3 linked regions of the Homo sapiens genome follow. The protein of the gene in region 2 interacts with the protein of the main gene of each other region in a biochemical or structural test. Each region holds a gene or a part of one and is shown on either strand. Other genes may lie near its edges.

Evidence for each region.
Region 1: of the proteins of RFFL (region 2) and PRR5L, one has a biochemical effect on the other in vitro, tested with the Homo sapiens proteins (one study listed by BioGRID).
Region 3: of the proteins of RFFL (region 2) and RAB11FIP1, one has a biochemical effect on the other in vitro, tested with the Homo sapiens proteins (one study listed by BioGRID).

The regions. Positions count from the first base shown.
Region 1 is NC_000011.10:36,397,249-36,404,351, reverse strand, and holds part of PRR5L (proline-rich protein 5-like), read right to left. Parts: intron 3,356-7,103; 5' UTR 3,231-3,355; coding exon 3,067-3,230; intron 1,055-3,066; coding exon 974-1,054; intron 1-973. UniProt on the Homo sapiens protein: Associates with the mTORC2 complex that regulates cellular processes including survival and organization of the cytoskeleton.
Region 2 is NC_000017.11:35,053,639-35,060,741, forward strand, and holds part of RFFL (E3 ubiquitin-protein ligase rififylin), read right to left. Parts: intron 857-7,103; exon of another isoform or gene 750-856; intron 1-749.
Region 3 is NC_000008.11:37,896,440-37,904,505, forward strand, and holds the start of RAB11FIP1 (rab11 family-interacting protein 1), read right to left. Parts: upstream 3,059-8,066; 5' UTR 3,003-3,058; coding exon 2,632-3,002; intron 1-2,631. UniProt on the Homo sapiens protein: A Rab11 effector protein involved in the endosomal recycling process. Also involved in controlling membrane trafficking along the phagocytic pathway and in phagocytosis. Interaction with RAB14 may function in the process of neurite formation.

The sequences.
Region 1 (7,103 bases), on a different chromosome or scaffold from region 2:
TGCAGTGAGCCCAGATGGTACCACTGCACTCCAGCCTGGGTAACAGAGCAAGACTCCGTTTAAAAAAAAAAAAAAAAAAAAAAGACCTGATGGATCGATCTCCTGTCCCTAGAAGATCCTGGTGCTCTGAGCCCTGCCTGACTTGCTGCTCTCATTTCACCAAAACATAGACCTAACTGCACAACTACTCAACTTCTGGTGCTCTATGCACATGGATGGGCCTTCTTTTGGTTCCTTGCTCATTGCAACCAGAGGAACTTTGCATGCGCAGTTTCTACCAACTGGAGCCCTGTTCACCTAGGTAATTTCCATGGATGTTTCAGATCACAGCAGCAGCATCACATCCACCATTCCTGGCCTCCTTGACAAAAATCAAGTCATTTTAACATATGCTTTCATCACAGCAGCTGTGTTGGAGTAGCTGTCTTAGTTGCATGTTTACATTTCACATGTGTGGCTAGTTGACTAATGATTCTCTTCCCAATGAATATAAATTCCAGGAGGGCAAGGTCCATGTCTGTCTTTGGTCCTTGCTGTCTCTCCAGTGCCTGGCCAACAGAGACGCACTCAAATGTTTGCTGGTAAGTCACTTAGTAAAAGGAAGAACACAATAAAACCTCAAGCAGTCTGGTTCCAACAACTAAGCTGAATTGCCTATTATGGTGCCTAATGGTTAGGAAGGGCACAATAAATGCTTACAGAATAAATGACAGCTGCCATCTATCAACTCTCCACCCCTTCCCCTACAAAACACACTACATACTGAACAAATGATTCTCTATGGATCAGAAGTCTAGACAGACACAGGTCTCAGAACGCAACAGCCATGAAAGCAGCATAGCTGACAGAAGAAGCAATAAGAATCAAGCAGGAAAAAAAAAAAAAAAACCCTTAAGGCTCCTAAGGCGGTAGCCCCTATGCCCCTGCTCAGGTTTATAGGGGAAAATGGCACCAAGTCTGGCCTGCCACATACCTGATGTTTTCGTTCAGGGCATAGAGCTCGTTGCTTTGCAAGCCACCCCCTTTGAAAACGTTGATCACAGCAGTCTGAACGCTACAGGAAAAGAGAATAACCCCTGGTTAGAGAATCTCCCTTCTTGGGCCATTTCAATAGCAGCTCAGGGCTGAAGGTGTGTGGAGTGACCAGGAAGCTCATAGCACAAACCTGGCCACACTCTCCATCCATCCTCCATTTCCTCAGTGTCCTTGGAGAGAAAGGAAGACCAAAGGCGAAAGGACTCAAAAGCAGCCCCCGCTTTCTTGCAAGCCAGCAGGTCTTCCTCCCTCACCTCGCTGGCGGCCCTGCTGGTGCAGCCACAGTCAAAGGCAGCCAGTGGGATCTGATCGCAGGAAACTGCATGGACCTGGGAGATTCCAAATGGCATTTCCTGCAAGCAGAAGCTGACCCATGCCTGCGGTTCTTTCACAGCCACTGTCTTCACAGGGAAGCTTGGTGGCCTTGAGCTAACATGAACCGGTAAGTCCTTTCCTTTTTAACAGCACTTTCCTTGGAAGAATTTCTCGCAGGCCAGCCTTACAGGCTCCTCACATGTCCACTCGTGTGAGGTGTACCGGCAGTAGAGTTAGTCCCTTGAGAGGCCATATCAGGGCTTACTCCACAGCCTCTGGGACGACAGCCCAGTGTTTCAGCAAAGGAGCTGCTTACAATCTTGTCTATATTAAGGCCCCTGGCCTTTCCTTTAAAGAACAGGGATCCATTTAACACCAAAACATTTTGGAGCCCCCTCTCTCCATCCCTATCATCAGAGTCCTGCTTTCTGTGTCCATTCATTTAAAATATCCATAATGGGCTGGGCACAGTGGCTCACGCCTGTAATCCCAGCACTTTGGGAGGCAGAGGCAGGTGGATCACTTGAGGTCAGGAGTTCGAGACCAGTCTGGCCAACATGGTGAAATCCCGTCTCTACTAAAAATACAAAATCAGTCAGGTGTGGTGGCACGCACTTGTAAACCCAGCTACTTAGGAGGCTGAGGCAGGAGAATCGCTTGAACCTGGGAGGCAGAGATTGCAGTTAGCCAAGATTGCACCACTGCACTCCAGCCTGGGTAACAGAGCAAGATTGTCTCAAGAAAAGAAAAAAGAGAAAAGATCCATAACGATCCAAACTACAAAGAATTCAGTCATGCTTCAAAATAATGATGCATTTAATTACTCCAAACAGTGTCTGCAAAGATTTGAAAAACAGTAGCCCACAAGCATATAAGACATAGTGCTGATTCAGTCTGCTCAATTCTTGGTGCACAAAAGGTTGGCTAGACACCTAACAAAACTCTGTGCCTCCTCTTCCAAGCACCTGTGGCTCACAGGTCTTCATAATCTTGGGTTTATGCCAATCATTTAATTTTTCACAGACATGTTTTATCTTCCCAAGTGGGAAGTAGGTTACTTAAGGTTTCTTATAGAAGCCCACTCTCGGATAGGCTGACAGTTTCAGGTGTGACTAATGAGCATGAATAGTGACCGTAAATTCCAGTGCAACTGTCCCAGTCTGGTAAACTGACTCTAACAGGCCAGAGGCCCTCAGTGGTCTATTTTCTGGCTACTGAAACAAAGAAAGCTAACAGACACGCTGGATATTAAAAAAAACTTGCTCTCTTGGCCAGGTGCAGTAGCTCACACCCATAATCCCAGCGCTTTGGAAGGCCGAGGTGGGAGTGATCCCTTGAGGCCAGGAGTTCAAGGCCAGCCTGGGCAGTATAGTGAGACCCCATCTCTTTAAAAAAAAATTGCTTTTTTAATTAGCTGGGTGTGGTGGCATGTGCCTGTAGTCCCAGCTACTCGGGAGGCTGGGGCAGGAGGATCGCCCGAGCCCAGAAGTTTGAGGCTGCAGTGAACTATAATTGCACGACTGCACTCCAGCCTGGGTGACAGAGTGAGACCCTGTCTCTTAAAAAAGGAAAAAAAGAAAATTTGCTCTCGTCATTATTTACCCCCATAATCACGGCCTTCCCAGAATCAGCAGAAGCTCAGTCAGCCCCCGGATGCCTCCCTCCCTGCCATGGCCCTTGGCAGCCCTCCACCCCACATCCTGCAGCCTCCTTCACCTGTTCCAGGCTGAGCTGGAGCTCAGCTGCAGAGCCTGCCGAGCTGCTTGGAATCGGGGAAGGTCGCTGAGCACGGGGGAGCTCATGAAGCGCGGTCTAGGCCTGCGGAAGGAGCCCATCTTGTGGAACTCGACGGGCAGAATGGGAGCGAAGCCGCGGGTCATAAGTCCTGGTGACAGTTCAGCTTCACCTCTAGGACCAGAAGGTTCCGAATGCCCTCGGAAAGGGCTTCTCCAGGGGCTGCCTTCAGGCCCTCAGGCTTTCTTAAAACCACAAACGTAGCCAACACCTGAAAAGAGAGGGAAGCTTTTATTGAGAACTCCTGGCCTGAGAACACCTCTTAGAGGAAGTTGGCTGGGACTTTCCAGCCTAACTACCCCGAAAACAACTGCGGGACCCAGCAATAGCATCTATTCCCTGGCAGGTTCCCATTCACAAGTTTGCACAGGGCTCTTTTCGGTTGTAACAGTGTGGTCACCCTCAAGTGGGAAGACAGTGACAATGGGGCCAGCCTAAGGCCAGTCCTGCAGAAAAATGATTTCTAAGCTGTGCTAGACTCTGGTTCCAATATGCAGCCATCAGTTTGAGCACTGCCTGGGTTCCTGTGGCCCACGATGTTGTGCAGTAAGAGATGGATTTTTAAAAAATGTCTCAAGGAGGACACAAGAGCTCCTCATCCTGGCATTGATGACCATCCATGATATGCCCTTACCAAGCCAGTCTGCATATATTGCTCAGTTTTTCTCAAAGTATCAGTGACTCTTCACTCAAGCACATCTCACCTTCCCTTACCTGCTGTTCCTTCACTCATTTCATCAGGACACACTCACTGAGTGTTTGCTATTTATTAACCACTGTGAGTTGCAGAACATCCAAAGATTTCTAAGACCAAATCCCTGCTCTCAGGGTACTCAGCCTATGGAGAAGATAACAGTCTTTTCAAGTATTCACTCATGCAATAAATATTTATTGAGCAGCTACTATGCATAGCCACTCAGGCACTGGGAGATATAAGATGGCTCCAGAGGCCCTGGTGCCCTGCCCCGTGGAGCTCGCAACCAGCAGGCACTCTTCTATGTCATGCACAGTCCTTCCCCCACACTTTTGCTCGTACCAACTACTCCTCTTGCCCAGAATTCTCTTCCTTTTTCCCTCTGCTTATTTAAACCCAACTCGCCCTGCAGGGTTGGGTTCAAGGACACTGTCCCCTTGTAGCAGTTGCTGGGAGACTTCATGGCTTCGCGGTTAAAGGCAGTGGCTTCAGGTTTGAGTCTTAACTTGGCCACTCCCAAGTTGTGTGACTTTGAACACACTGAGTCTGAAGTCCTCAGCTGTTACTAATGCCCACTTTCCAGGACTGGAGAGATGAAATGAGATCATGTGACATGGCTGGCAGAATGGCGGAGCCATGGGCCTCAAGGACTGGCTATTTCCATTCAGATGAATTTCTTTCTTTCCTTTACACCTTTGGACCTGTAATTTCAGTCTCTTATTCTTTAGTGACTCTAAAGTCTAAATGAATGACTTAAAAGGCGAGAATTAGAGTTCAGCAGAGTGAAGGACAAAAGGAAACACCACGAATCTCATAGTCACTTTTTACTTGACGGTTTAGTAGGTTTAGCCCAGAAGTGTTTTCACTGCCATCTCTCTCACCAGCTAACTCTGCTATGTCCCAAAAACTAATGATGCAAGAAAAAGATATTCTAGCCTTAAGTCAACCTTCAGGTTGCCAGGGGAGAAGATTTTTGCAGCTCCAGCTGGTTAGCACTTGAAGAAGGAGGAACCGAAGTCTCACCTCCAAATCAAACATGCTGTTGTGGTCAGAAGAGTGAGTTAAGCCACTCAGATGGGCATGGAGGCAAGCCATCGAGAGGGCACGGGAGGTGTTAGCAGCTATCTGCAGGCAACAGGCATAGCAACAAGGAACTTGTAATACGAAGAGGCAGAAAAGAAATGGCTTGTCCTGTCTCTTAACTTTTTTCTTTTAAGGAAAGCAGACTTATGTCCTGTTTTCCTGTACAGTCTTTGCCCCTTCACCCCCTGCTCAGAATGAGTTCAACAGTTTTGTTAAACTTTATTAACAAAAGAAGCATAACAGGCTGTCAAGTTTCAGAAGGCCTCAGCAGCTTCATAAATGCCACTGCAACGTGGAAAGATCTACACAAACCAAAAAATGAGGTGATGAAGAAATAAAGCCACAGAAGGTCCTTCCATATCCTTAAATTGGCTAGCTTTGGGATTTAACTCACCCAGTAAAGGTCACACTACTAAGACAGGATCCATTTCGCTGCCATTCTTCAAATGGACCTGCTAAATGCAATTCACCTGTGTAATTACAGGATATTAACTCCCTTTATGAGGATCTTAAACGAGTTAATGGAGCTGCCTCTCATTCCATGGCACTGGTACAGGGAAGTAGAAAAGTGAGCAGAATGGATCGTTCCAGGTGTTTACCCACCATCTTCCTGCCGAAACATCCACTTCTCCAGGAAACTGTAAGACACTGAGGACCGCAGGCTGGCTCCTGTCCCCGTCCACTTCTCAGTTAGTGTTCCCAGGCTGCCTAGTCCAGCAAAGCGCCTGGGCAGCCACAACCACGCACTCAGCCTCTCTTAAATAAGGGTCATTTTCAGCCTACGACTATGGCTCCCGCGGACTCAGATAAACTGCACAGTCACACACAACGAGTTGCCACTGACTCATTTTTCTCCTCCCGAATCCGCCACTCTCAATCCTGACAGCTGAAGAGAATGTGAAGCTGTCTTTGTCTCCACTGTTCCTACTGCCGGGCAGAGCCAAGAGACCTCCCCAGAGCAGCACAGGGAGGAAGGAGGAGGCCGTTGGGAGCATTGACAAGAGTGGCCTAAAGGGAAACGCTGATACACCCTGGGTTCACCTGCTACAGCGCTGGCCCGGCAGGCGCGGGCCTGTCCTGACCTATATCTGACAAGTCAGAAAATGACAGAACAGATGGGGCCTCGGAGTGGGGCCAGTCCAGGTCCCATTGACAGATGACAAAGGTATAGCAAAGAAGCAAAGAAACACATCCAAGGTGCTCGAGGCAGGAAGAGAGCCAGGACTGTGAGAGCTATTCCCCGACACCTGTTTGAGCATGTTCCCCAGCTCCCACCTAGGCCATTCTGCAAATTCCTTGAAGACAGGCATCGGGCTTTATTCACCTCTATATCCTCAAGACTAAGCTCACTGCTTAGCCTGGAATCCCAGCACTTTGGGAGGCCGAGGTGGGTGGATCACCTGAGGTCAGGAGTTCGAGACCAGCCTGACCAACATGGAGAAACCCCATCTCTACTAAAAATACAAAATGAGCCGGGCATGGGGGCGCATGCCTTTAATCCCGGCGACTCGGGGGGCTGAGGCAGGAGAATCGCTTGAACCTGAGAGGCAGAGGTTGCGGTGATCCGAGATCGTGCCATTGCACTATAGCCTGGGCAACAAGAGCGAAACTCGTCTCAAAAAAAAACAAAAAAAGAAAGAAAAGAAAGAAAAAGATGAAGGAAAAGAATTAAGAAGGCATTGGCTAGGCCAGGCACAGTCACTCACGTCTGTAATCCCGGCCAAGGCAGGCGGATCACCTGAGGTCAGGAGTTCGAGATCAGCCTGGTCAATATGGCAAAACCCTGTCTCTATTAAAAGTACAAAAATTAGCCGGGCATGGTGGTGCGTGCCTGTAGTCTCAGCTGCTCAGGAGGCTGAGGCAGGAGAATCGCTTGAATCCGAGAGGTGGAGGTTGCAGTGAGCCAAGATGGCACCACTGCACTCCAGCCTGGGCAACAAAGCAAGGCTTCTCTCTCAAAAAAAAAAAAAAAAAAAAAAAAAAAAAAGGCATCGGCTGCCTGGCTGACATGAAGCCAAGCATTGTCACAATACATAAACTTACTCAACCCTCACAAAATACCAGTTGAGCTGGGCACAGTGGCTCATGCCTGTAGTCCCAGCACTTTGGGAGGCCAAGATGGGTAGATCTCGAGGGCAGGAGTTCGAAATCAGACTGACCAACACGGTGAAACCCTGTCTCG
Region 2 (7,103 bases):
TTTGCAGGAGGATCACTGGGACAATGAAATGCCCTACTGTATGCAAAGTACTTAATACAATACCAGGCATTATGGGAAACAATAATCTTTTTTGTAACTATATTCTCCCCCACAAACCATTCTATCTTATAAATCCATGCTCACCAAGCAAGCTTGATATTATTAAATTTGATTGCCAGATCTCTTGATATTGAAAAGCAATTATCCTAACAAATTCCAGAATCCCGTTAACGGAAAAGGAATCCTTCATTCTAAAATAATAAATTGGCATTCCATTCTGAGCTCAATCACTCAAGTCTGAATACAATCCTGTCTTCAAGACTAATTATTTCCAGGTTCTCCACAAAATACATTTTGTGACCCAAGACTAGACTGACGACACAGTGACCAAAATCCTGAGGGGTCATCCTGAGAAGCTAGATTGGCACCACCCTGGCCAGCCCTACCTAATGCCACCCTCGCTCTACAAGCTAACTTGTATAATACTTTCCCATACTTCTCCACCTTCCACCCCTGTCATACCCTTCAATCAAGCACTATAGTGAAGCACTTTACCTTCCTCTCTAACCGTGTAGAGGTCAAATACACCATCTTATCCATTTTTGCATTTTCCTCCATATCCCAATATAACTTGCATCAAAAGAACCACAATAAATATTTACTGTAAAACACAATTTTGCTTAACAACACAAGCCATTGCATTCCACCATTCCCACAAGCTGAGGCCTCTTTCTGATTTATTTTTCCCACATCAGATGGGTAATGCACTGACTTTGTAGTAACAAGGCTTGATGGAGGCACATCTCATACATGTGCATGAAAATCCAATCATTACACTTATGAACAACAAAATAATCCCCTTTCTAATTTACTGAACTCTTACTCTATCTTTTATCTTCCCCTCCCTCCCCCACCTCTCCATTCCTAAACTGCCAGATTACTATAGAAAAATCAGAAGACTTTATTTAACTGGGTTGCTAACAAATTCATACAGCTGGGGTAAGCCATCACTGGGCTCTAAAAACCTTTCATTCCTCTCTAGCTGATGTCCTGATAGGGCTTTCCAAAGAGCAGTGTCATGCAAGGTTTAGGAGCATGGGGCCTGGGTCAGACAGAACTCATAGTCTTCTTTCTGTGTGACCTGTTAAGGTGATTAATTCCCTAAGCGTCATTTTTCTCATCTGTAAAATGAAGTACCTAAAAGAGGTCATTCACACAAATCCTTAACACTAACACAGTGACAGGCTTAGAGTAGGTGCTTAGTAAACACCGATCCAACAGCTTTTTTTTTTTTTTTGAGATTGAGTCTTGCTTTGTTGCCCAGGCTGGAGTGCAGTGGCGCGATTTTGGCTCACTGCAAGCTCCACCTCCCGGGTTCACGCCATTCTCCTGCCTCAGCCTCCTGAGTAGCTGGGACTACGGGTGCCCACCAGCACGCCTGGCCAATTTTTTTGTATTTTTAGTAGACACGGGGTTTCACCGTGTTAGCCAAGATGGTCTCGATCTCCTGACCTCGTGATCCACTTGCCTCGGCCTCCCAAAGTGCTGGGATTACAGGCGTGAGCCACAGCGCCCGGCCAATGGTCACCAATGATCTTCTGATGGATAAATGTGTGATTCTTTCCTATGTCCTCAACCTTCATGACTCCCTGAAGCCCCATGCACCCAAAACCTACCCAAATTCTTCATTATGAAGCTGTCTTCAGAGGGTTACCAAGAACTATGGACAGAAATATAACTTTAATTAAGCATTAGGCCAGGTGCGATGGCTCACCTGTAATCCCAGCACTTTGGGAGGCCAAGGTGGGCGGATCACCTGAGGTCAGGAGTTTGAGACCAGCCTGGCCAAAACGGTGAAAACCCATCTCTACTAAAAATACAAAATTAGCCAGGTGTGGTGGCACACACCTGTAGTCTAGCTACTCAGGAGGCTGAGGCAGGAGAATCACTTGAACCCAGGAGGCAGAGGTTGCAGTGAGCCGAGATCATGCCATTGCACTCCAGCCTGGGCCACAAGAGCAAAACTCCATCTCAAAAAAAAACAAACAAACAAACAAACAAAAAAAAAACATTAATCAGGCTGGATTTTGACACATTTCCTTGTAACTGAAAGTCACACAGCGCTAGATACTGACCATTTGCATCCCTATTGTTTCTAAAGATAGTATCTCTGACATTAGAAGCATAAGGCTTTTTTTTTAAGAATTGCTTGAGATATTTTTCAGATCCCAAATTCTGGTAAAACAGCTGATGCCAACCAGTTTGAAGACCCTCAGAGAGAAATAAAATCAGCATAATACAGTTTTTTCATCTCCGGGTCCCATTACTTCACCTTTCTCTCTCTGACCACCCAACAATCTCCACATTCCAGCCCACTCCAAAATCCTTAAAAACCCTAGCTCCAAACTCCTCAGGAGGACGGATTTGCAGTTCCCTCTCATCTCCTCATTCTGCAGCCCAACAAATAAACCCCGCCCCCAGGTCTTGGGTATTGACTTGCCACACATCAGACAGCACACTTACTCTGGATACACTTGAATTCCCCTTACAGACTCCTTCTCCCACACTGGCTCCCACTGCAAGCGTGGTAGCCTGACTTACCTTTGACATCAATGACCACTCTTGCTCCCTTATTTTCCTTCCCTGGTTCCTTCTTTTGCCCCCTACATAGGCCCTAGGGTTCTGTACTCCATACTCTTCCTTCTTCCTTTCCTTCTCTAGTGAATTTTACTTCTACTTTTTTTTTTTTTTTTTTTTGAGACAAAGTTTTGCTCTGTTGCCCAGGCTGGAATGCAGTGGCATGATCTCGGCTCACCACAACCTCCGCCTCCTGGGTTCAAATGATTCTCCTGCCTCAGCCTTCTGAGTAGCTGGGATTACAGGCATGCACCACCACGCCCGGCTAATTTTGTATTTTTAGTAGAGACGGGATTTCTCCATGTTGGTCAGGCTGGTCTCAAACTCCTGACCTCAGGTGATCTGCCCACTTCAGCCTCCCAAAGTGCTGGGATTACAGGCGTGAGCCACCATGCCCAGCCTGGTTCTACTTTTTAAATGCATCCTGCAACTATCCCGTTCTATGTCCACTGCCATATCCTGCCCTATCTGCGATGATCCTTCTCAAGAAGGGAGACAAACACTTCCTTACTGGTCCCTTCTTTGTGACTCTCTATTCTCTACAGAGTAGCCAGGGTAACCTTTTATTTAGAAAAAGAATCTTTGCTTGTCACTTTCTGTTTTAAGCCTTCAATGGTGTCCCACCACCCTTTTTTTTTTTCTTTTTCTTTTTTTTTGAGACAGAGTTTTCACTTTTGTTACCCAGGCTGGAGTACAGTGGTGCAACCTCGGCTCACTGCAACATCCACCTCCCGGGTTCCAACAATTCTCCTGCCTCAGCCTCCCGAGTAGCACGGATTACAGGCATAAGCCACCATGCCTGGCTAAAATTTTTTATATTTTTAGTAGAGATGGGGTTTCACCACGTTGACCAGGCTGGTCTCAAACTCCTGACCTCAGGTGATCCACCTGCCTCAGCCTCCCAAAGTGCTAGGATTACAGGTGTGAGCCACCATGCCCAGCCCCACCACACTTTTGAGTGAAGGCTAGACTCACTATCTAGCCCACAAAGTCCCCATGTGATGTGGGCTCTGCTTGCCTTTTCCACTTTACCTCATGCAGCTCTCCCACTTCACTCACCTTGCTCTGTCCTTCGGTCACCTTCCTTCAATTCCTCAAAAATTATAAATTATTTATTGCCCCAGGGCCTACAAACTTGGGTTCCTTTTCTGGCTGAAACATTCTCCCTAGCTCTTTTCACAAGACTGGCTCCTTCTCAGACTGCAGTTCACCTTCCCTATAACATAGCTGTCTGGCACACAGTAGGAGCTTACCAGGTATTTGTGAAAGGAACAGATTTCACATTCTCCAGTCAGGTAACTCCCAAAAGTGAATATCTGGAATCAATCTCACCCTTCAGATCAGTGCTTCATTTCTAAATGCCTGCTAAATTTCCATACCTCAAACTTAGCATACTAGATATAAAACCAACTCTTCCATTTTCCCAAACCAGTTTCTCCAGTTTTCTGAAATTACATGAGCAATATGATCCAGTTTCCACTTCAGAACAATAAATTTCCCATTCATTTGCTCTACCTGTCCAAAATTCCAATCACCTTTAAAGCTAAATTCAAATATCACTTCATTCAATCATGCATTCAATCAACCACTTATTCATTCAACAAGTACTTACTGAGTGCCTTTTATGAGGCAGACACTATGTTAGATACTCGAAAGCAAAGCAGATGTATTTTTGTCTATTATACATCAAACAATCATATAAATATTGAATTATGAACTAAAAAAAAAGTAATGAAGGAAAAATGCCAGAAAACATGAGAAAAAAATGAGAGGCATCAAGAAACACTGTTCTGATGATGGGCTGATTTAATGAAATATAATTTACACTAGGCAGACTGGAAAGAAGAGCATGCTAGATAGGATTCAATCAAGTCCTAGAAGCAGGAGAGATGAGATCTATCTCAATGTACATATCATCTTGCCTTACATATTATATCTATCTATCCCCCCCCACCATACTCATTTTACTGATAGTTACCTGAAAGAAAGGACATAGAGTGTCTCTTATGTGCCAACACAACACCCCCAGGAGACACTGAGTCACTGGTCTGGTACCTAGGAGCTTATGCTTGTAAAAAGCTCCCAGATGACTCTATATGCAGCCAAATTTGTAAATCATATGCCCAAACTACCCATTTAATAAACATATATTGATTATTCTTTCATGAAAAATCTCTAAGGTCAGTGTGGTAAATTGTATCTAAAATTGGTGGTAGGCCAGGTGCGGTGGCTCACGCCTGTAATCCCAGCACTTTGGGAGGCCAAGGCGGGCAGATCATAAGGTCAGGAGTTCAAGACCAGCCTGACCAACATGGTGAAACCCCGTATCTACTAAAAATACAAAAATTAGCCAGGCGTGGTGGCAAGCAACTGTAATCCCAGCTACTCAGGAGGCTGAGGCAAGAGAATCACTTGAACCCGGGAGGCAAAGGTTGCAGTGAGCCGAGATTGCGCCACTGCACTCCAGCCTGGGTGACAGAGCGAGACTCTGTTTCAAAAAATAAAGTTGGTAGTAATAATCCCAATCACATTGCATGCCCTTTTGCAATGTGATTTTTACCCTCTATCCTTTAGAGGTGAAGTCAATGTCCCCTCCTCTTGTATCTGGGCTATAATTGTGACTTACTCTGACAAAAAGAATGGGGCAAAAGTGATGATGTATGACTGCCAGGCCTAGGTCTTATGAGATCCTGCAGCTTCCATTATGGCCCAGCCACCATGTAAAAGAAGCTCGAGCTAGAATTTTTTTTTTTTTTTTTTTTTGAGACGGTCTCGCTCTGTCACCCAGGTTGGAGTGCAATGGCACAATCTTGGCTCACTGCAACCTCCGCCTCCCATGTTCAAGCAATTCTCCTGCCTCGGCCTCCCAAGTAGGTGGGATTACAGGTGCCCACCACCATACCCAGCTAATTTTTGTATTTTTAGTAGAGACGGGGTTTCACCATGTTGGTCAGGCTGGTCTGGAACTCCCGACCTCAGGTGATCCACTCACCTCGGCCTCCCAAAGTGCTGAGATTACAGGCATGAGCCACTGCGCTCGGCCACTCGATATAGGTTTATAAGTGATGAGAGACCAAGAAAGAGAACTCACAGAGAACCAAGATATCCCAGCCAACAGCTAGCTCCAAAGGTACAGACATGTGCAGCCTTCTTGGATCCTCCAGCTCAATCAGCATCATATGGGACAAAAAAAAATATGTCCTCCTTTCCTGAATTACTAACCCACAAAATCATAGGCAATAAAATGGTTGTCATGTTATGCCACCAAAAGTCTTCGGGTAATTTGTCACACAATAGACAACTGAAACAGTCAGAAATTCAACACTCTCTTGGGCAGTCATTCAAACATTTCCCCACTTTGATGATCAAAAAATTCTTTCTCGTATTCATCAAAATTGCTCCTCCTTCAATTTAAGACCATTTCCTCTTAAATCTTTGAAGTTCATGAAGAATAATTAATAAAAATCCCCCTGGCAAAACTATTCTTGTATTTGAAGATGATAATGAAGTTATCTCTTAGCTTTTCTTTCTCTAGGCTAAAATCTTTCCCCCCTTTTTAAAACTTATAATGATAAGACCTGTTTTTCAACCTTTTAATCATTTTAATTATCCTCTCAAGTATGAGAGACCCAAAATTGAACACCATATGCCAATATCTAACAGAGATTATTTCCTAGCTCTAATGGTTCAGCTTTTTATAATGGAATTTCTCATAGTCCCAAATATGGCATTTTAGCACTCCAAAAGTTGTGAAGTGATCTAAAAAGTTAATTACTTACTATAACTGTAAAAGGTTTTCTGCCCTTAACACTCAGCTTACTCCATTTTGGGATGACCGCTTTCACTCACCAGCCTGGTTTGATACTCCACCAGGGCAGCAGGTTTTCACAACTTCCAGATATTTGAAGTATAAAAGAAAAACCTGAGAGGTTGGAGTACGCACACCATTAATTTCAATCAAGGTCTCTAACCACAACCAGGGCCTTCCCATAGGTCAGGCAGGTTCAGAGTACCTCCTCCTCCTACCTTGATGATAAAGTGGCCTTGTAAAAGGCAAGACCGTTAGCACTTGCCTATCGAGCAAAGGCACCATTTCTGTGGAACCTGATAGAGTATATTTAACTACTATATTAAGAGACAAACCAGCTGCTTAATGCAGTGTAAGAACCATGTTTTCTCTCTGAGTCTTACCTAAATGTATATATGCTTTGGTATCAGACTAGCTTTATAATCACTGGTAAAATAGGGATAATAAATAAAGCCTACCCAACGCAAATAAAACCATATGAGGGAAATAATTTTGTAAAACACCATAAAAATGTCGTGATATTGCGGGACTAGATCTCAGCAAACCCTTTAAATCTTCAAATTAACTTTGAATGATTACTTGATGGTGGCAGGTAACACATACAAAATAAGCAGCCATGGGCTCATGTTCATCAAATAGGAATGAAAAACCATGCCAT
Region 3 (8,066 bases), on a different chromosome or scaffold from region 2:
AATTTCATCTACCCATAGAGATGCAAAGAAGCCTTCCTTTGCAGTTATTTTAAGAAAGAAAAAAAAATCAACTAAGCACCATTTTCCTGGAAGTCAATACTGTGACTAGGTGGTAATCGGTTCACATAATAGGTGGGAGTTATTGTATAGGTTTAGGGTTACATTGGATAAAATAAGAAAAATGAAGATGCAGAGACTGAACTCTTCCTGAAAAAAAGAGAGCTCAAGGTTTCAATCTCTCACAAAGCAGTTGCCAACCTTTTCAATCACTTCTTGGATACATTGGCCCCATTAATCCAGGAACCCAGAAACATCTTACAAACATCAATTAAGTCTGGCAACATGCTCTATTTACAAATAGAGAAACTTGGGTGTTTAGGGACAGAGAAGCCCAACAATGAGTCAGGGCTGCTGTGGGCACTGGACCCAGGACTCTGGAATCTCCATCTCTGGCAGGGAGATGTGATCTACCTCTCAAGGGGATAAAATGTCCACATAAGAAACAGGTGGCAGAGAAGGAAGTGAATACACACATGTTGGGATGGCGCAAGACAACGGATGGCCAACAGCACCCATTTGAAGCTGAAGGGAAGCCAACCCACCACCCCCAGTGTCATTTAATCAGATGGAAGATCAGCATTGCTGCAGCCCCTCCTTAGCAAAAACACTGCTCACCTTATGGCTTGTAAATTGATGCTGTGAGATACCCCATCCATCCTCACATCAAGGCTAGTTTTATCTGATGTGAGTTCAGAAATGCCTATTCATCTCTGGCCAGGTAAGTTTGCATCATCAAATATTCCATTTGCAAGCCTACATGCTGAAATGGAACCCACCCCACAGTAAAGGGAGCCTCCAGAGGACAAACCCTCTGGCTTTTCCTGTCTCCCACAGAAGGGAAAGTTAAAAGGCTATGTATATCTAAAACACACAAAGCAAATCAGTGTGATTCCTAGACTATAGGCTTTCGGTGCTAACTGACTGGCCTGTGTATTTAAGATCTAACAAAGTAACCAGCTAAGCTAATCGAGGCTAGCTTTGGCATACTAGATGAACATAATCGAACGTTCCTTTGGGTGAAGCACTGCCCTTTCCGAACACCTGTGAAACAAATAATTCGGTAATATCATGGAGTGAATGGTTTTTGCCCAGTTTTTACTGCAGAAGTGAAATAACCTGACACAATCTTTGGGAGCTACAGGCGAGCAGACATCCACCAGGATTAGGACCAGAGAGAAGAACTCTACCAACTCCAAAAGGAAACAATGCCCAGTTCTGCTCCGTCAAGGGCCCACCCGGGCTCCTTCCAACCTGGAGAAATCTTTACTAACATGGGGCCCAGGGCACACACCACACTGTTGTAACATTCTTTCTGTAGGGGCAAATTCTCTTCACCAACCCCCTAGGCAAGTATGAGGTAGGGGAAGGGGTTAGCAAGTCATGTGACAGCCGGCAAACGCCATTCCCCTCCCCCAACCTCCACCCACCCCGCATTGTAAAGGCGTTGCGCCCGGGGTTAGCCTTTAGGGTGGGGGTGTCAGCTGGTTTCATGCCTCCTGTTCCTCTGCCCTGCGCCCTGGCCCAGTCATTCTCGGCTCGAAGTGTTCTTCTATTCAGTGAAATACCCAGGAGGCCTTCCACCCAAGCGAAGGCGAGTATCAGACACGGGCTACCACCCTAGTAAGAAGAAGGCACCTGCCCACGTATAGTTGGAATTCATCTAAAATTCACTTAGTGCTTACTGTGTGCCAGACGCTGAGGGGCGTCCTGCAGATTCAAAAGCGCCCCAGGCCCGGCGCGGTGGCTCACGCCTGTAATCCCAATACTTTGGGAGGCCGAGGTGGGCGGATCACCTGAAGTCAGAAATTCGAGACCAGCCTGGCCAACACGGTGAAACCCCGTCTCTACTAAAAATACAAAAATTAGCCGGGCGGGCCGGGCGCGGTGGCTCACGCGTGTAATCCCAGCACTTTGGGAGGCCGAGGTGGGTGGATCACGAGGTCAATAGTTCAAGACCATCCTGGCCAATCTGATGAAACCCCGTCTCTACTAAAAATACAAAAATTAGCCGGGCGTGGTGGCGCACGCCTGTAGTCCCAGCTACTCGGGAGGCTCAGGCAGGAGAATCGCTTGAACCCAGGAGGCGGAGGTTGCAGTGAGCCGAGATCGTGCCACTGCACTGCAGCCTGGCGACAGAGTGAGACTCAGTCTCAAAAAAAAAAAAAAAAAAATTAGCCGGGCGTGGTGGTGCGCGCCTGTAATCCCAGCTACTCGGGAGGCTGAGGCAGGAGAATCACGTGAACCTGCGAGGCGAAGTTTGCAGTGAGCTGAGATCGTGCCATTGCCATTGCACTCCAGCCCGGGCGACAGAGACTCTGTCTAAAAAAAAAAAAAAAAAAAGCGCCCCAGATACGGCCCCTTCTTCCAAGAAGACCCAAAGCTGGCAGAGCTGGGCGGGACAGCCGCAGAAGGGGAAGCCAGGTGAGAACACCAGCACCGGCCGAGGGCTCCGTCCCGAAAGGCCTTCCCCGCTGCTGCCCGGCTTACTCTCGAAGGGTCCAGCGCCCAGACCGCCCTGCCGGAGGGGTCCGCGCCCCCAGGCCGGGCCCTCCCCTCCCCGCCCGCACTCACTGCGTCTTCCTGCGGCCCTGGTCGCGGTGCAGATCCCGCAGGTCCACCTCGGCGCGGCCCAGGAACTTGTCGAGGCCGAGCAGCGCGCGGTGCAGCACGGTGAGCTGCAGGGTGGCGGCGGCCGCGGGTCCGGAGGACAGCAGCGATGGCAGCTCGAAGGTGGCCTCCTCGCGCCACACGGGCGCGCCCAGGCTGCGCTCCGACACGGAGGTGGCGTACTTCTCCTTGCCCACCTGGATCACCGCGTACGCGTCGCTCGTGCCCCCGGGGCCCTTGGCCCGCAGGCCCCGCGCCTGCAGCACCGTCACCTGCACGTGGGTTGGGGACCACACGGCCCCCAGGCCCCGGCCAGCCGAGACCATTAGGGACATGGTGACGATAACACTCCAGAAGCGAGGAGAAGATCGCCGCGACTGGCGGCCTCCACGGCCCGCCCCGGCGACCAGGCCACTTTAAGGCTTCCGGCCACACCCCCGCCAGGCCACGCCCCTCATGGCCAAGGCCACGCCCCTGCCCGAGCCGCCTGCTCCACCTGCTGCGCCGCGCCCCGCCCCGCCCCGCCCCGCCCCGCCGGCCTCAGCAGCGCGGGCAGCTCCGGGCACCCGGGCGCCGGAGGCGGGGCTGGCGCGGCCAGGCAGGCAGGGGATCACGTGCGCAGGGGCGGGCGCATCGAGAATCTAATCTGAGAGGTGGTAGGTGACGGATGGGGTCCCCAGCTGCCAAAGGTCGCACGGCGGGAAGGAGCTGGCCGAAGCACTGACTTGGAAGTCAGACCTCATTTCCAGGGTCACATCGCCAGTCGTGGCCTTGCGCGGATTACCTAACATCAAGTCTCAATTTCTTCACCTGACAATCACCTCCTAGGATTGCTGTAAAAAATAATAATAATAATGCATTACAGTTCTTGGCCCAGTGCCTGGCTCATGGTGAGTTCTCAGTAAATAACCATGACCAGCACGTTGGGAGGCTGAGACAGGAGGATCTCCTGAGCCCAGGAGTTCGAGACCAGCCTGGGCAACATAGCCAGATCCCCGTCTCTACAAAAAAAATTAAAAATAATTAGATAGGAGTGGTGGCAAGCGCCTGTGGTCCCCGCTACTTGGGAGGCTGAGTCTGGAGGATCTCTGGAGCCCAGGAGGTCGAGGTGCAGTGAGCCGAGATCGTGCCACTGCACTCCCAGCCTGGGCAACAGAGCAAGACCCTGTCTCAAAAAAATAAAGTTGGTAACTATGAGGGTGCTAAGGAAGATGCCCACCCAATTCACTGTGCTTTCTACTTCTCCCGCTGGAAAGCCTTGCTCTGGAGGAAGGCAGCTGCAGAGGAAGGTGAGGACCTTGTGAGGGCCGGAAAAGGGGAAGGTATCCTGGGGAGCATGAGTTCAATGTGGGAGTGTCCTATTTTGCCCTCCCCCCACCAGATAAGGCGAGGCTGAGTTAGAAAAAGGGAAGAAAGGAGGAACTGAAAATGGGATTGCCAAATCAAACATCGGGACAGTGGCAGGCCCCCAGCCCGCAGTTCCCCATTTCTCCCTTGCCAGGCCCTCTTTAGTCTCTCCCTGCCTCTATCCCTGGGCTCCCAGGCAGTCCCTTTCTTGTTCCAAATGCCTAATAGATCGGCTGCTTCCCTTCATTTCACAGGTCCTAGTTCAAAGGCTCAACTGTTTAACGAGTCATCAGATTGGAAAGGTCACTTGGAAGGTTTTAAAGTTTTACAGTTAAGGAAAGACTCAGAAGAGAGGAGTGACATGTCCAAGGTCCCTCTGCAGAGCTGGGACTGGGATCCCAGTGTCCTGACTCCCAAACAGCTGTTCAGTGCATCTCTTGATTCTTCCAGATCCACAGAACCCCAATCTTGGATGGCTACTCGTGTCCCTCCAATCTCCAGGCTCTCCTCCCTCTGGTTCACACTGCACATTGCTTCACTAACCTGCTGGCTGCCTCACCAGCAACCGCGTTACCTTCGGACTGAACAGAGATTTCAAGGTACTCCATTTTGACCCCACCCTACCTCATTCTCCTCTATCTCCCGAACAAACAAACCTGTAGCCCAGACACTTTTTACTTCCAGGCCTTTACGTTGTACCCTTGACTGTCTTTGCCAACCTCCCACTGCAAGGGTTCACTCATATTTCTCCAAGGTTTGACTTCCTATGCCCTGCTGAGGGCAGGGACCAGGTAGTGACTTATTCAACTTGTCTCCTTCACAGCCTCCAGCACAAACCTGGGTGCACAGTAGGTACCCGGGAAGTGCTACTGAACTCAAGAGTTTGCAGGTTAAGTTGGCCAACCATGAGGACCAAGTGTTTCCTTTTACCACGTAGGAAATTAGAAGACAGAGGTATGCCTCAGGTTTGCAACTGAGGGCAGCTGCAGTGTGAGAAAGGCCTGTTTAGTATGTTGGAAATATTTTTTTTCTTTTTTTTTTTTCTTTTTGGAGACAGAGTCTTGCTCTGTCTCCCAGGCTGGAGTGCAATGGCGCAATCTTAGCTCACTGCAACCTCTGCCTCCCAAGTTCAAGCGATTCTTGTACCTCAGCCTCCCAAGTAGCTAGGATTACAGATGTACGACACCATGCCCGCTAATTTTTGTATTTTTAGTAGAAATGGGGTTTCACCATGTTGGCCAGGCTGGTCTTGAACTCCTGACCTCAAGTGATCTGCCCACCTCGGCCTCCCAAGGTGCTGGGATTACAGGTGTGAGCCACTGCACCTGGCCATGTTGGAAATATGTAACGATGATGGGAGGAGTGGGGGAAAGAAGCCAGCAGGCATAGAAGGGGCAAGAAAGCCTAACAGAACTGTGTTGTTTTGGTGCCATTTTCCCTTCTGGATGATCCATTATACTCATTCAACATTATGACTCAGTTAATTTCCATAAAGGCTTCTTGAGGCCAGATGCAGTGACTCATACCTGTAACCCCAGTGCTTTGGGAGGCTGAGGTGGGAGGATCACTTGAAGCCAGGACTTCAAGACCAGCCTGGGCAACACAGCAAGATCTCGTTACTACAAAAAGATAAAAAATAAAACCAATAATTAGCCAGGCATGGTAGTGCGCACCTATAGTCCCAGCTACTCAGGAGGCTAAGGTGAGTGGATTACTGGAGCCCAGGAGTTTGAAGCTACAGTGAGCTATGATTATGTCACTGCACTCCAGCCTGGGCAATAGACCGAGACCCTGTTACGATTTGTTGAGCATTTACTTTGTGCCAGGCATGTGCCGGGTGCTACCAAGTGCACAAAGCTGAATGAGACTCAGTTCCAAGGCACTCCAGCATCATCTAAAGGAAGTCCTGATTACTGTGATGCTTTGGGTGTTTTGAGGAGAGAGCGATTTCTGTAAGTTGGTGGATTTTTGTGAAGTAGGAGGGGCTCAGCTGGGCCCTGAAGGATATATCAGATTTGACAGAAACAGGAGGAGACATATGAGAAGAGCATTTCAGGAGAGAAGAGGAGAACAGCCTACGCAAAGATATGGGGACCAGAGAGTCGTGGCGTTTCCAGGTTTCACATACCCCATTGTGGCTGGAATGTAGGATGCTTTAGGAGGCCACTGAGAATGAGTGGTAGAAATAAGACAGAAATAAGACAGGCTGCGCTCAGACCATGAACACCAGGCTAAGGAGCCAGCCTTCAGAGAACACCAGGCTGAGACCAGGGGAGCCAGCCTTCAGAGAACTTTGAGCAGTGACCTGCTTAGGCTGTTCTCAAATTGCAAGGGAGGTATGAGAAGAAGGAGTCCAGCAGCCAACAGCTTGGCAGGCAGGTCACAGCTAGATGCCTTCATTCATTTTCACCTGGGGATTGTCTGCCTTCTGCCCCAATCTGCCTACCTCTTCCCCATCTTGGAGTCTCTTCTAAGTTGGTACTGAATTAAATAAGAGGGTATACACTTTCCTCTTGATTATCCTACCTGTCCAATGTTCTACTACACGCCAGCTGGACAAAGTCATAGATTTCAGTTCAAAACTGACCTGGGGAGGTGGGGCACAGCGTCTCACACCTGTAATCCCAACACTTCGAGAGGCCAAGGCTAGAGGATCACTTGAGCCCAGGAGTTCAAGACCAGCCTGGGCAACATACTGAGATTCTGTCTCTATAAAACAAACTTCAAAAATTAGCTGAGTGTGGTGGCGTCCACCTGTAGTCCCAGCTACTAGGGAGGCTGAGGTGGGAGGATTGCTGGAGCCCAGGAGTTCGAGGCTGCAGTGAGCTATGATTGCACCACTGCACTCCAGCCTCAGCAACAGAGTGGGACCCTGTCTTTAAAAACAAACAAACAAACAAACAACTCAGCCTGGGAGGAAGTTTTTCAGCTCTAGTTCCCCCTCCTCTCCAACACTCACATTTTTAGTGCTGCTCCCCCAATAAAGAAAACAAGGCATAAAACCTAGCTGGACAGCCTCCCCAGCTGAGTATGAAACAAAGCATATCTTCCACCCATGGAAAGGATTAGAGGACAAAGAGGGTGGGGAAGTACCTGTGACCTCATGTGTTTGAGTTTCTGTGAGACACAAATAGACTTTGGTGAAAGCAGATGTGGTAGTTTGGAGGCAGGCACAGCTGCCTCACCACCCAGGAGAAATCCAGACCACTCTCATCAGACACTGACCACTGGCAGGGGTTAGCTCAAAGGAGTGGGGGCTTCCCAAGGCAGGAACTGGAAATTTTTCAGAGAAGGAAGAGGCCGGAGCCCCAGCACCAGGTGTGCCTTGCTGCCTCCAGCTGTTTGGTGGCTGTTTTTTCCCCTCCACCAGCCCAGAGCACGTTGTTCCCATGACTCTGCCCAGGAGTCACCCTCTGTCTTCTCCCAATTTTCCAGACCCAGAATCCAGGCTGGGGGATGCACAGGGACAACAACAAGGGCAGTGACAAGGCAGGCACCCTGCAGGCCCCTGGCTCCCCACTGGCCCTGGGAAGACTCCACCGTGGCCGCTCCTCCCCACTCCCAAAGGCCAGGCTATGCTGGCCGGCTGAACCCGCGCAGGGTCACTGAGTTCCAGGAGTGTTTGTAAATACCTCCCGCAGCCAGGGTGCGGCAGAACAGGAAGGCTGCTCCTTCCTCCCATCCTGCCCTGCCTCCAGCTTGGACTGAAAGAGGAAGAGTTTCAATCAACCCTGAGCACATGGACAAGCCTGGCAGGTTAGACTGGACAGGTGAGACACCTGTCCTCCTTCAAAAGCAGCAGAGCAGAGAGTGCCAGGACTCCCAGCCACCTAGATGGCCCTGGGCAGCCGAGCTGTGCAGTTAGAGCTGATGAGAAGGCAGGGCTGTGTCTAGACCAGCGGGAAGCACCTCTTCCATAAGAGAGTCCCTGGGGCCACGCTGGGGAAGAGGAGAAAAGGGGTTCCAGGGAGAGAATCCTCCTGACAGTCACTCCCCCAGAGCCCTTCAGTGTCCCTGATGCCCCTGCTGCAGGGACACTAGCTCAGAAACCA